2 linked regions of the Homo sapiens genome follow. The protein of the gene in region 1 binds, or shares a complex with, the protein of each later gene. Each region holds a gene or a part of one and is shown on either strand. Other genes may lie near its edges.

Evidence for each region.
Region 2: NCF2 (region 1) and CYBA share a complex: the UniProt entries of both Homo sapiens proteins name them as parts of the phagocyte NADPH oxidase complex.

The regions. Positions count from the first base shown.
Region 1 is NC_000001.11:183,559,451-183,566,474, forward strand, and holds part of NCF2 (neutrophil cytosol factor 2), read right to left. Parts: intron 6,330-7,024; coding exon 6,254-6,329; intron 4,581-6,253; coding exon 4,555-4,580; intron 4,136-4,554; coding exon 3,984-4,135; intron 3,857-3,983; coding exon 3,745-3,856; intron 824-3,744; coding exon 646-823; intron 1-645. UniProt on the Homo sapiens protein: Subunit of the phagocyte NADPH oxidase complex that mediates the transfer of electrons from cytosolic NADPH to O2 to produce the superoxide anion (O2(-)).
Region 2 is NC_000016.10:88,648,054-88,654,983, reverse strand, and holds the start of CYBA (cytochrome b-245 light chain), read left to right. Parts: upstream 1-3,930; 5' UTR 3,931-3,970; coding exon 3,971-4,028; intron 4,029-6,869; coding exon 6,870-6,930. Other genes in the region: MVD (diphosphomevalonate decarboxylase), read left to right, coding at 177-292, 1,576-1,684, 2,379-2,459. UniProt on the Homo sapiens protein: Subunit of NADPH oxidase complexes that is required for the NADPH oxidase activity that generates, in various cell types, superoxide from molecular oxygen utilizing NADPH as an electron donor.

The DNA of each region.
Region 1 (7,024 bases):
GTTTGCAGAAGGTCATACAGCTTGATGCAAAGGCAAAGTGATTCCAGCCCAATTTGTTACCTCTGGGAATGAGAATCCATGGTTTCCAAAGCATACTCCTCTTTAATAATCAAGATGTTTATCGCCGGCCAGGTGCGGTGGCTCATGCCTGTAATCTCAGTACTTTAGGAGGCCGAGGCAGTTGGATCACTTGAGGCCAGGAGTTTGAGACCAGCCTGGTCAACATGGCAAAACCCCATCTCTACTAAATACACAAAAATTAGCTAGGCATGGTGGTGGGCGCCTGTAATCCTAGCTACTCAGGAGGCTGAGGCAGGAGAATTGCTTGAACCCAGGAGGGGGAGGTTGCAGTGAGCCGAGATTGTGCCACTGCACTCCAGCCTGGGCAACAGAGGGGGACTCTGTCTCAAAAACAAAAACAAAAACAAAACAACTCAGCTTCTTGTTGCTTTCCTGGCTACTAGAGCAATAGACAGGGAAAGTCTGAGTGCTCAACTTTGCTCCCTCCAGCTAGATGCTAGGAAGGGGGTTGAAAACACTGGCTAAAGTTTTGTTTGTAGATTATTGATATTTTCTTCTCTCTGCCCTTGACCTTGTTTCTGCTAACATGTAAATTTGTTTCTATAGTCTTGGAGTAGCACTTACCCTTTGATAACACCAGGATTATATCCCCTTCCTGAAACTCCAGGTCCTCTGGTTGGGTAGCCTCATAACTGAAGAGTGCCTCCACTTGGCTGCCTTTCTTAAGCTGAGGTTCTGTTGTCTGGTTATTAGCATCAGCTTTTTCACTTTCCTTGGGTTCATCTGGAAAGCCTTGGTCACCCTGAAATAATAAAGGGCCTGTTAATTTTCCCAATTTCCTGCCAAGTGAACACTGAACATCACTAAAGGAAACAGCGAAATGTCAAAGTAGAACCTGGGATATAAACTCATAAAGTTTGTGATCAGTGCCTTGTGTAGAGCTTATATGCTCTTTATGAATACTGGATGGTTGGGTAAATCAGTCCCCAACCTTTTTGGCACGAGGGACCAGTTTCATGGAAGACAGTTTTTAGATGAATGGTGGTGGGTGGTGGGTTGGGGGGTGGTTTCAGGATAAAATTGTTCCACCTCAGATCGTCAGGCATTAGATTCTCATAAAGAGCATGCGACCTAGATCCCTTGCATGCACAGTTCACAATAGGGTTCACACTCCTATGAGAATCTAATGCTGCTGCTGATCTGACAGGAGGCAGAGCTCAGGCCAGTATACCTGCAGCTCACCTGCTGTGCAGCCCTGTGCTGGCCCGTGGCCTGGAGGTTGGGGACCCCTGGGATAAATGAAACCAAAAGGTCTGCAAAATCATATACAGTCTTAAAATATCTTACTGAAACCTTACAATAATCTTGAGACAGGTAGAATGGGCATTATTATTTCTTTACAGATGGGGACAGAGCCCTAAGTCAAAACTGGCTTTCTTAGCATCAACTCTAACAGCAACACTAGGGACCTTGTTAGAAATGCAGACTTTCAACTCCATCCCAAAACTACTAAATCAGAAACTCCCTGAAGGTGAATCCTGCAATCTGTATTTTAAGTCCTCTAGGGAATTCTGATACTTGCTAAAGTTCAAAAACCACTGCACAATGCCATACTTGTTTTATCTGTAACAACATTTCTTATACATCTTAGACTTATGATCTTAGACTTCTTCCACATTATTGTCACTTTTGCTTCACAAATGAAGGAGAAGGATGCGGTTTCTACAGATGTGAATCATAGAATTTAACAAATCAACATTAGAAATGCTGCTAGGCTTGTATGTACCGAGCATTATAAGTTCTAGCTTCTTAATGTTGTTTGTTGAACGTTGGTATATTTTTATTGAGAGGCAATACAATGAGGTGGAAATGGCCCTAGAGAGTCCACAGAGAAAGGTTTGTATCCCACCTCCACTGCTTACCAGCTCTGTGTCCCTAAGCAAGCAGTGTAACTTCTCAGAACCTCAGTTACCTCACCTGAAATTGAGGCTAGAAGAATTCAATGAGATGACATACAATAATAGTAGTTGACATTTATTGAACACTTACTCTGTGGCAGTACTCTTCTAAATATGTATAAATATTTAGACTTGGTTAATGGTAAGTGTTCCTGCATAGAGTAGATGCTTAATAAATGTTAGTTCATTTTATTTTTCTTTCTTTTCTTTTCTTTTTTTTTTGTATTTTTAGTACAGATGGGGTTTCACCATGTTGGCCAGGCTGGTCTTAAACTCCTGACCTCAGGTGATCTGGCCCATCTCGGCCTCCCAAAGTGCTAGGATTTCAGGCATAAACCATACCAGGCCTCTTTTTTTTTTTTTTTTTTTTTTTTTTTTTTTTTTTTTTGAGGCAGAATCTCTCTGTCACCCAGACTGGAGTGCAGTGGTATGATATCAGCTCACTGTAACCTCCGCCTCCTGGGTTCAAGCAATTCTGCCTCAGCCTCCCAAGTAGCTGGGACTACAGGTGCACACCACCACACCCAGCTAATTTTTGTATTTTCAGTAGAGATGGGGTTTCACCATGTTGCCTCAGCCTCCCAAAGTGTTGGAATTACAGGCATGAGCCACTGCGCCTGGTTTTCTTTCTCCTAGTAAGTGAAAGCCTGCTTTGTTGCCTCCAAAAGTAATGGATAGTGATAAAGAACATTCAACAGTGACTCCTGAGCCTGGATTAAATTGCAAAAGATTGTGGGGAGTTGTAAGAGGGTTGGCTATGTGCAGCCACCAAATAGATTGAAGCTGCTGTCAAAGGAAAAAATTTTAATTAAAAAAAAGTTTAAGTGAAGTAGTTCACATTTAGAGCAGAACTCCTTCTAGGAAGAATCTTTTAAAAAAGATGCTGAAGGGGTTAGTCCAAAGACAGACAGCTGGAAAACCTAGAGTGACTTTTCAGACTTCCAAGAGACCCCTTACACTCACACTCACTCTTACCCCCAGGATCCTGGGGCCTTTTGTCTCAGCCAGAGACACCAGGGAGTCTCATCCCCAGTGGCTGTATTTCCTGAAGGCAATTTTCTGAACGGGGAAGATACCTTAAACAGCTTTATACACTGCCCTTTTCTAGGCTCATTCTCTTTCACTCTTCTTCTCCCAGCTCATGTCTGTAATCCCAGCACTTTGGGAGGCCGAGGCAGGTGGATCACAAGGTCAGGAGTTCAAAACCAGCCTGGCCAAGATGGTGAAACCCCGTCTCTACTAAAAATACAAAAATTAGCTGGGTGCAGTGGCAGGTGCCTGTAATCCCAGCTACTCAGGAGGCTGAGGCAGGAGAATTTCTTGAACCTGGGCGGCAGAGGTTTCAGTGAGCCAAGATCACACCCAGCTTGGGCGACAGAGTGAGACTCCATCTCAAAAAAAAAAAAAAAAGGTGAAGAATGGCTATGAGCTGAGCCTTAAGCTATGATATGACTTCATTCCAACCTTGCTTGACAGTAATGGATGGGATGTTTGACACAGTCAGGCAGGGAGCTGATGGAGGGGCAGGAGGCTTTCTGTGAGCTCCTGCCCTGCTGGGCCTGCTGTTCTCTTGTGGGAAACTCTCTCCCTGCTGCAAATGGGGTGAGGATGCAGGTAAAAGGGAGGCAGAGCTGTGACTTATTACACACCATATCCCCAACACCACATATAGTGCCTAGTACACAGAAGGTGCTTGATAAATTTCAAATTGTTGAGGAAGTGGCTCAGTGGAAATGTAACTTTAGATGCCCCTCATTGCACTCACCACTGTGTTCTCACACCACAGAGTCAGGCAGTAGTTTTTCACCTGGCCCCAGGCATCCTTCATGCTGTCTTCTGAAAGGGGCACCAGCTCATTGCTGTCCCGAGGCCGATAGCTGGGTGGGGATAATGAGTAAGAATCCAGTCAAAGAACATCATCACAAAAACCATCCTCCTCTTCCCTCCTCCAGGCCAGCACAAGGTTCCCACTGTACCCCTCACAGCTGCCTGCATGGAGCTCACCTCAGCTTAGTGTGTTCCAGCCGGAGCTCCAGTTTCTTAGACACCATGTCCCGGACCTGGCTGTAGGGGAGCCCGGGCTGAGTCTTCATGACTACCGTGTACTTGTAGTGCACCTTGAGTGTGTAGGGCATGGGAACACTGAGCTTCACTTCCTGAGTGGGGAGGAAACAAAGGGAACTCCTGAGTGTCTGAGGCTTTCTCTCAACATCCTGGATCACCGCAGTTTCGTGATTTGGCACAGGGGGTACCCAATACAGCAGGGGAGAGGCCAGTAAGTAACTGGTTTCACAGTAGCCTAAAAGGCCTTCAGAGGTCCTTTAGCCCAACCCTTGCTTGGACAGGAATTCCTACTGAGTAAGATCTGGCCCACTAGCTTGGGTAGTAGGAAGTGTGTGCATGATAGTGGAGGAGGCTATTAAGAAGGTCCCTAGCTCATGGACTCTGTAAGGTAGCAACTGGTTCGACCCTCCCTTTGGGGCTCTTCCTATAATCCAGACAGACATGTCTGTGGTTGATAGCCCAAGCTATCCCATCTTCTACCACTTGAAACAGTATGAGGGAAAAATGTTACCTTAGGCTCTTCTTTTTGTTTCTGGCCTGAATGGAAAAAGTAGGGAGTAAAACAAAAGAAGATGGTGAATGAACATCCTTGGCCAGCCCCTGCCACACACAGATGAAACCTCTTCAAATAGGGCCCCCAACCTCTTACCCTTTAATTTGTGGGGCAATTATTAACCTTAGTAAACTGTGGGGAAAATCTCGCCCTGGGGAAGCATGAAGGTCATGAACACATGAACAAACTCAGTCTCTGCTTCTAGGGAGCCTATAGGTAATTACCAAAGGACCAGCATATCCTCACCAACCCACAAGGTTAGCAGGGATCCCAAAGGTCAATTAAGCCCACGGGATCCAAAGCAATGAAAATCGGAGTGCAAGGTGAGCCAGAGGCCACAGGAAGAAGTATTAGAACCACTGATCCTCACCTTATTCTTTATTTTTGTGTATGTTTCCTAAAGTTTATTAATTTAATCTAATCTATTAATCAAGCAATCTAATATTAATCTAATTTATGTAAGAGTAGCATGCATAAAGATATTTACTATAGGGGGTACATGATCAGAGAAGGCCACTGATCTCAAACCTAGCTGATCATTAGAATCACATGGGAAGTTTTTTTCTAAAATACAAATTCCCGAGCCCCATTCCAGTCCTAAAATATCAGAGCCAGTAGCCTAGGACTCTGTATTCACAAAATCATCCTAGGTTTATATGTGATCCTTGATGAGCCTCTAGACAAAAGATAACAACAAAAAACCTGTCAAGGACATTGAGCAGGAGCAACGGGAGAAATTTGAATATGGAATATACATTATATAATACTATCATATGAATGTTTAGTGTCCTAGATACCATGATTCTATTGTGATTATGCAGGAGACTGCGTTTTTGCAGCTGTGTAGGGTGAAGTGTCACGAGTCTGTAACTTTTCAACTGGCTCGGGGGAGAAAAATAGAATGGAGCAGGGCGAGTTCATGGTGCAAAATGTTAACAATTGGTGAGTTTAAGTGAAAGATATTCTGATGTTTATTGTATTCTACTGTCAGCTTTTCTGTAGGTTGGACATTTTTCAAAATAAAAATGGGGGAAGGGACATCCCGAGTGATTCTGATGATCAGGCGCGTGTGGCAATCATTGATCTAGAATCTGGCCAACCACTCACTCTGCGTCTCTACCAAGCGCTTATCCAGAATCTGCTTCAAGTGCACTTCCCAAGACAGCCCTCTCCACACTAGGAAACAGCCTTTCAGAGAGAACATTTCCATTTCACATCTGCCCATTGGTTCTTTGTTCATCCTCAGGGCTCCACAGAGCAATTTCTTTTCCAGATACAGTGCCTCAGACATTTGAAAACAGCCACTCCATGCCCCTCAGAGATAAGCAGGTATAGTTACTTCAACTTTTCTTCCTGAGACATCGTTTCCCTACCTAATGATCAAGGGGTTTGGTGACTACGTGAGTCACTCAGGAACCAGCTGCATTCACCCAAGCCCCGTGAGTGTTCTGCAGAAGGCAGGGAGAGAGGGCACTGATTTCATGTTTGGGGTGGGTGGTGCAGGAAAGGGGGATTCTGGGGCTGCGTGGTCATTAGCTGAGTGACATGTTGGGAGAAGAAGAAACCAGAATTTCCTGGAAGGCAGGGAGAGGAACTCAGGAAGCAGCCTGGCATGCTGCTGCACCCAGACCTAGGCTGTGGCTCCAGGACCACTCACCTGGTGACAGCTGGGGTCTTCCAGGGGCTTTGGAACTAGGAGGAGCTGGGATGTCGGACTGCGGAGAGCTTTCCTCCTGAAGGCAACAGGGAGCGACGGTCAGAACCTTCATTCAAAGTTCCCAGGCAGGGGTGGATGTGGGGAAACACCCCTACAGAGACCCCATGTAAAGGAGCCACATGCAGATAACGTCCTAAAAGTTGGAATGGTAGTGACATTTGGGGAAGACGAAGGAAATGTTGGCCAAAAGAGGAGGTGGAGTTGGCCTGATGAAAATGAAAATCACAGTAGAAAGAAGAATCCTAACCCGCTAAAACGCCCTTGCCGCTTTAGCAACTCTTTCAGCCATATTGGAAATCCACTGGCCGTGGGGCAGGACTGAGCTCTTGTCTCCACTGCAGAGGGCATTGAGAAAGGAAAAATTCCACTTCTCATTTGCAAGGCATTTGAAGCTTTTCAAAGCATTTGGATATGGTGACTGACCAGGGAGGGCTGAGCTCATATACAACTGGTTGCACAGTCTAGAGACAGACAGTCTCCACTGCCATTGAGTCACTTACAGGGATGCTCAGATCTGACAAAGACAGCTCTCTAGGCCTGGCAGAAGGACAGACTTTTGAAGTGTGAGGGAGGGAGTAGCAGCAGTTTAGAAGCAGTGGCTGGCAAGGCCCACTCTGATTCAAAGCTCTAAGGCAGATCTCATTTTATTATTTTTATTTGTATAGAGGTGGCATCTCTCTATTTTGCCCAGGCTGGTCTCGAACTCCTGAG
Region 2 (6,930 bases), on another chromosome or scaffold:
TTCACAGGCAGACGTGTCAAGTACCAGGCACTTGGGGTCACAGCTCCACTCCAGTGTGGCCCTGAGGGCCTAGACTGAGCTCTTGGAGAGCCCAAGGCCGCCTGGCAGACCAGAGGGTTGGGGAGACAAGGGTCAGGCACCACGTGAATAGCCAGGGTGACTGCTGTGGGTTCCAGGTGGCGTACACCTTTGACGCGGGCCCCAATGCCGTGATCTTCACCCTGGACGACACTGTGGCTGAGTTTGTGGCTGCTGTGTGGCACGGCTTTCCCCCAGGCTCGAATGGAGACACGTGAGTGTGGACCCCGCCCCTCCTCCTTTTTGGGAGATGGTGCCAGGAACTCTGGTCGGAAGAGACGGAGGCACCTGAAGGCTGTGGCGCTGAGACAGGGAGTCCCAGGGCAGGCAGCAGTCCCCCGAGTGTGGGAGCCACGGGCAGGGTGTCCCCATAGAGCCATCCCACAGCCCACGTCCACAGGGAAGAAAGAGAGGCCGCTCACGCGTGTGTGAGCAACGCCCAGGGTCTCCCACCTCCTGAGTGACAGCGTCCCCTGCAGCTCGGGACCCCGCAGGCTCTTATTCTATAGAACAGTGGCTTAGGAAACACGCCTGCACTCCCAGATGTGTGCGTAAGTGTCCGACATTTTGAAGGAAAGGAGTCAAAGCCCCTGATTTCCTTCTTACTGAAGCGAGTTAGAGCCAGTCAAGGCGGCCGGGTGTTGACCCCGCCCCGGCAGTTGGGTGTCTTTTCTTGGGTGGGGTCCGGCAGCTGCATCTTGGCGCCACAGAGCCCCCATGTACGCCCTCCTCGGTGCACAGCTTGGCCCTGAACCGCCTCTTCCCCTGCGCTGCTCTGTGGGGGTGCCACAGAGCCCCCATGTACGCCCTCCTCGGTGCACAGCTTGGCCCAGCCTCCTTACGCCCCGGGGCTGTTGATTTCTTCCCTCCCGTGTTTTCATGGTGTCTTATTCTCAATGTGAGAGGCGCCTCCCATTTAAGGGTGTCTGGAAGCGTGTGGGGATGTGCGTCTGTCCCGGGTGGGAGCAATAACACCTTCTAATGGTCAGGGGCCTGCCCTGTGGGGTGGACTCAGACCCACACCCCAGGACTGCCCGCCTGGGAAGCACCAGGCTCGTGGCTGCTGCTCCGGGTGGGGCTTGCAGGCTTCCGCTGTTCTGCAGAACACGGTGACGAACGCACCAGCTTGAATTGGGCGCTTCCCTGAGCTGTTACCCCATGGGGCTTGGCAGCACCCTTGGCCAGATGTGGGTCCAGCCTGGGCATAGCTGTTTACCACATAACCTAAAATTTCCTGTCTCAGCCATTCGAGAGCATATAATCCTGCGGTGTTGAGGACATTCACAGGGTCATGTGAGCACCACCTCAAGCCACCTCCTTAACTTTTTCATCACCCCTAAAAGAAACCTGTCCCCACAGCAGCCACCTGCCGTCTCCCCCTCCCTGAGCCCTGACGGCCAGGAATGCACTTCCCATCTCTGGACTTGCCTGTTGTAGACTGTTGTAGACGCTTAGAGAAACGGATGCATTCACCGTGCCCCTGCCCTGCTTTTCCAGGTTTCTGAAGGGGCTGCAGGTGAGGCCGGCCCCTCTCTCAGCTGAGCTTCAGGCTGCGCTGGCCATGGAGCCGACCCCCGGTGGGGTCAAATACATCATTGTCACTCAGGTGAGGCCTGGGGCTCACCCAGTACCCCGGGGTTTCCTTTCCTGCCAGGGGGGCCCGCCCAGCCCCCAGGGCCCTTAAAGGCTAAGCGCGGCTCCCTGTCCCTACCGTGTCTCAGGCAGGAAGCCAGAACGCCTTTGTCCATTCATTTGCTCTCAAAGTGGACATTACAGGCCACTGGTGATGCTCAGAGCAGCAGGGCTGCGCTGAGGGTGGGAGGGTGAGTCTGACACAGGCTCCCAGGGAGACAGGTGGGGAGTATCAGACCCTTGAATAGGGAGCGCCTGGGGTGGGGGCTGCTGGGGTCCCTGGGACCCCCCCACCCCAACCACCCCAGCAGACCGGAGTTCCTGCCCTCTGACCTGCTCCGAGGGCCAAGCTTGCATCCAGTGATCACGGCCGCCCAAGCCATTGCCGCCACCTTCCTCTCAGGGGCTGCCTGTTCCCAGGCTCTGTGGTTCTCTGTCCCCCCTGTGACAGAAGCAGTGCCCAGGGCAGGGGGCTCGCAGCTGGCAGGGGCGGCTGTGCCTGCAGGAGCTGCGTGTGGGTGTCACCACTCAGGCGCTTTACCTTCTGACCAGGACCCACAGGAAGGGCGGGGGCACACCGCTACCCTCCTGTGTCCGGCCCTACAGATGCTGGGCACAGGATGAGGCGCTGCCATTCCTGGTGACCTGACATGGATTTCTATCCCCAGGTGGGGCCAGGGCCTCAAATCCTGGATGACCCCTGCGCCCACCTCCTGGGTCCTGACGGCCTGCCGAAGCCAGCTGCCTGACTGCCTCAGCAGGGACCGCATGCCGCTTGGAGAAGGGGTGGCCTCGCCGGAGCTAGGGAGCGGATGTGGTGGGCTGGCCGGACTCCTGGGACATGTGGGTGGTGGCTTGACCCCGGGCCCATGGGCAGCTTGCTGTGGGGCAGTGCAGGGAGTCCTGCGGCCGCCCAGGTGTCAGGAGAGGTCCCCGCCGAGTGCTTCAGCTGCCCTAAGCTGCACCAGCGCTTTGCCAAGATGGGATGGGGAGGGGGTATGAGAACTGGCAGAGCCTCGGTGCAGCAGGGCTGAAGGGCTTTCTCACCCCAGCTCTGGCTATGCCCAGTTCTCTGAGAAAGGAGCTCAGTGGGGAGGTGGTCCCTCCAGCGGACCAGGGAAGGGGTCACCGTGCTGGGAGCAGCCTCCTTGGGCCTCAGGAAACCACCAAGTGCCTCGGATGGTGGCTGCCCACGGCGCTTCTGCTGAGACCCTGCCCCCGGCCCAGGTGTCTCGGAGGGTGGCTGCCCACGGCCTGGGTGTGGCTGGAATGGTGGCAGGAGTGGGCACCAGTGCGGCCCCGGTGGCCATGGGGAATAAACCAGCATTGCTGCCTCCGGCCTCCGCCGTTTTTCTGTTTCGTAAACCAGCATCCCGGGGTTCCTGCTCTGAGTGACCCTGGCACCTGTCAGGGAGTCCAGGTGTGCCCCATGAGGGCCTGGGGGAGGGGCAGGCTGGGCAGAGCCACAGAGGGGCTCCCCTCAAACCCCACATTGGCTCAGGTGGGACCCTCAGGAGCAACCCCAGGTCTAAAGTCTTCCCATGGGCGCTGGGCTCACCACCCCCACGCCAGCCCCTGCCTCCCGTACCCAGGCCGGACGTGACGGGGCCGTCCCTGCATTCTGTGCTTTCCCAGTTGTACACATCCTGTCCCCTCCCTCGAGTCTCAGTCACAGTTCAGTGACCTGGTGACGGGAGGCCCCCTGCAGTGTCTGACCCAGGCCACGCCTGTGCCAGCCCAGAGCCAGGGGGAGGAAATGGGGGCTGGGCCTCTGGTCCCCATGGGGAGGCCACCCTTGTCCTTGGTAGCATCAGGGTGCAGAGGTGTTCCCGGGCTGTAGGGGTGACTCCCCCACCCCCCAAGGCTCTGGAGAGGCCGATTTGCTCAGGAAGCCGACCTTCACACCTTGTCCTGCTATTAATAGACGCCTGGTTGACACGGGACCCTCGGTTGGGTCCGGAGCATTGGGCAGGGGCACTTGTCAGTGTTTGAGAGCTGAAGTTTGGGAAGCCCTGGGGAAGCGCAGGAACTCCCCGCCTGGGCTGGGGCTGCCGGGCAGGGCCCCTCCTATGCCTCGGCGTGGCTAGAGAGGGCGGGGGCAGAAGGCTCCGGGACAGCCCTGCACCCTACAGATGCGGGTCTCCGCCCAGCCGCGGTCACCTGGGGGGCTGGGGGCGGGGCCTGGGCGGGGCGGGGTTCGGCCGGGAGCGCAGGGGCGGCAGTGCGCGCCTAGCAGTGTCCCAGCCGGGTTCGTGTCGCCATGGGGCAGATCGAGTGGGCCATGTGGGCCAACGAACAGGCGCTGGCGTCCGGCCTGAGTGAGTGCACGTCAGGGACGGTGGAGGCTGCAGCCTGGAGGGGTGTCCCAAGACCCCAGCCGGGACCTCGGGCTACTTACAGGGTGGGGAAGTGGGGCGCCAGGCGGGCCAGGCCGGGCCGGGGTCAGGCCAGGAGGGTGCGGGGAACGGGGGCGGGACCCTCAGGCCGCGGGCTGGAAGGAGGAGTTCTGAGACCCCCAGTAATTCCCTTGCAGACCCTGCGGAGCGCGGCGCCCCTCCCCCATTCCCTTCTCTCGGTCCCCCGACTCCGCGAAGGAGGAAGTTGCAGCGCAGGGGAAGAGGCGGTTCAGCCCCGGTGGTTTCCGGGGTCACCGCCCCGAAGCCCCCGAGTGGGGGCTCCGGCCTGGGCATCGGGAGAAGCTCCCCTGCCCCTCGGTAGCCAGCTGGCCTGGAGGTCGCTCTCCCTGGGCTTGGGGTGGGGAATGGGCTCATGCCCTGGGGCTCAGCCCTTCTCATCTGGAGTCTGCGCTGGAGGCGGTCTGAGATTTCACAAGGCGCCGAAACCACCCAGTGACGGCCCTGCCCAGCCCAGCTGCACAGGCACTTTGCTCTTGGGGTGGGATGGCACAGCCCCCAGTCACCCTCCTGTGCATTTGCTCAGAGGTTCTGGTGAGGGCAGCGGACTCCATTTGGAAATGGACCCTCTCGGGACCAGGGCCAGGGAGTGTCTGGCCCAGCACGGGTGAGGCTGGGCTCAGGCGAGGTCTGAGGGCAGAGGCACCACTGCAGCAGCTCCAGGAAGGACCTGCACCGGGGGAGGAGTGCCTGGGAAGGGCCTGGGGGCTGAGGGTGAGGAGGAGGGGCCCGCTGCCACCACTCCCCTGGGGCTCTGAGCGCCCTCCCTGTTGTCTGGAGGGTGCGTGGCAGCTGGAGTGGGAGCAGAGACCTCAGGGTGGGAGGGCTGGAGGACGGGGCCCTGCAGCCTGTCCTGTGCCCAGGAAAGTGACCGCCTGCTTCGAGTCAGCGGCCAAGAAGTCGGTGGGTCAGTTCAGACAGCTCTCCCCAGAGCTGCCCCGTGAGACTCACCCTGCCTGCCCCGCACTCCCTACAGGAAGTAGACGGACTGAGGGCACCCAGCTGGGAGCCAGGAGACCTGGGCTCTAGTCTGGCCTCCTGCTGAAACCCTCCAGGGGCTCCTGGCCCGAAGAGTTAGAGCCAGACTGGACGCCCTGCACTGCCCGCCCTGGCCTCCCGGCTCTCCGGCCCCCTCCTCCAGCTGCCGTGCTTCCTTTCTGTTCCTAGATCTCCTGAGCGTGCCCCAGGGCCTCGGCACAAGCTGCTGCTTCTGCAGAGCCTCATGGCTGTCTCATTTATTTCTCAATTCAAATGCCACCTGCCTGGGGAGGTCCTTCCAGACCGTGCAGCCCCAGGAGGCAGCTGGCCCGGAGACAGCAGGGCCTTGACAAAGAGTCCCCCCTGTACACAGCAGGTGCTCTGTAAATGTGGCTGGGTGCCAGAATACGTCCTCAGACCTCCCTGGTGGCACCAGCGGCAGCTTTGCACCCTCTTTCGGATGGCAGGCTCGGGACCAGGACGGTCCCCAAAGATGCATGGACAATTGGCTGAGTAGACTCAAGGACACTGCCCTCCCCTCCTCCGACGCAGACAGACAAACCCAGAGAGTTAATGTGTAGCTGGGCTCAAACCAAGGATAGGAAATCTTCCAACAAGACCATGTGGAGACAAAAACAGAATGGCTGGCAGGGCAAGGTGGCTACACCTGTAATCCTAGCACTTTGGGAGGCCAAGGCGGGCGGATCACGAGGTCAGGAGATCGAGACCATCCTGGCTAACACAGTGAAACCCCGTCTCTACTAAAAATACAAAAAATTAGCCGGGTATGGTGGCAGGCGCGCATAGTCCCAGCTACTCGGGAGGCTGAGGCAGGAGAATCGCTTCAACCTGGGAGGTGGAGGTTGTAGTGAGCTGAGATCACGCCACGGAACTCCAGCCTGGGTGACAGGGCAAGACTCTGTCTCCAAAAAAAAAAAAAAAAAGAAATAAAATAGTAGGAAGGACCAGGCGCCGTGGCTCATGCCTGTAATCCCAACACTCTGGGAGGCCAAGGCGGGCGGATTCCCTGAGGTCAGGAGTTCGAGACCAGCCTGGCCAATGTGGTGAAAACCCTGTCTCTAATAAAAATGTAAAAATTAGCTGGGCATGGTGGCGGGCGCCTGTAGTCCCAGCTACTCAGGAGGCTGAGGCAGGAGAATTGCTTGAACCCTGGAGGCGGAGGTAGCAGTGAGTCGAGATCGCGCCACTGCACTCCAGCCTGGGTGACAGAGCAAGACTCCGTCTCGAAAAAAAAAAAAAACAGTAAGGGGGAATATTGGACAATACCCCCCCAAAAATGTGCAGAAATAGCCATATCAGACGAAACCGAAATTAAGGCAAAACCGCTGACGGGTTAAGAGGAACTCCGTATCGGGGGGAAAAAGACACTCCCCCAAGAAGATGCAGAAACCACACTCGGCCTGTTAGCTTTCAGTGCATCAAACAAAGACTCATGGTGACAAGGGGGTCCATTTGGGGGTCCCAGAGCCCACTGGGGCCTGCAGGTCGGGCTGTCCTTGGCCACTCCTGGGACCCAGAGCCCGGGCATGTCCAGCACCCCCTCCGCCAGCCCGTGCGCCACAGGCTCTGCTCTTCACCAGTGCAGAGGGGTGCCTCCTGGGGGTGTCCCCGACCCTGTCACTGTGCTGTGGGGATGGGTAGGGGGCAGCTCTGGGTGGCCTGGTGGCCCACAGTAGGTAGAGAAGGGGGGTGGCCCAGGCCCCCGGGACGGGAGCCCCACAGTGCCTGACCCACTTCTCCCCGCAGTCCTCATCACCGGGGGCATCGTGGCCACAGCTGGGCGCTTCACCCAGTGGTACTTTGGTGC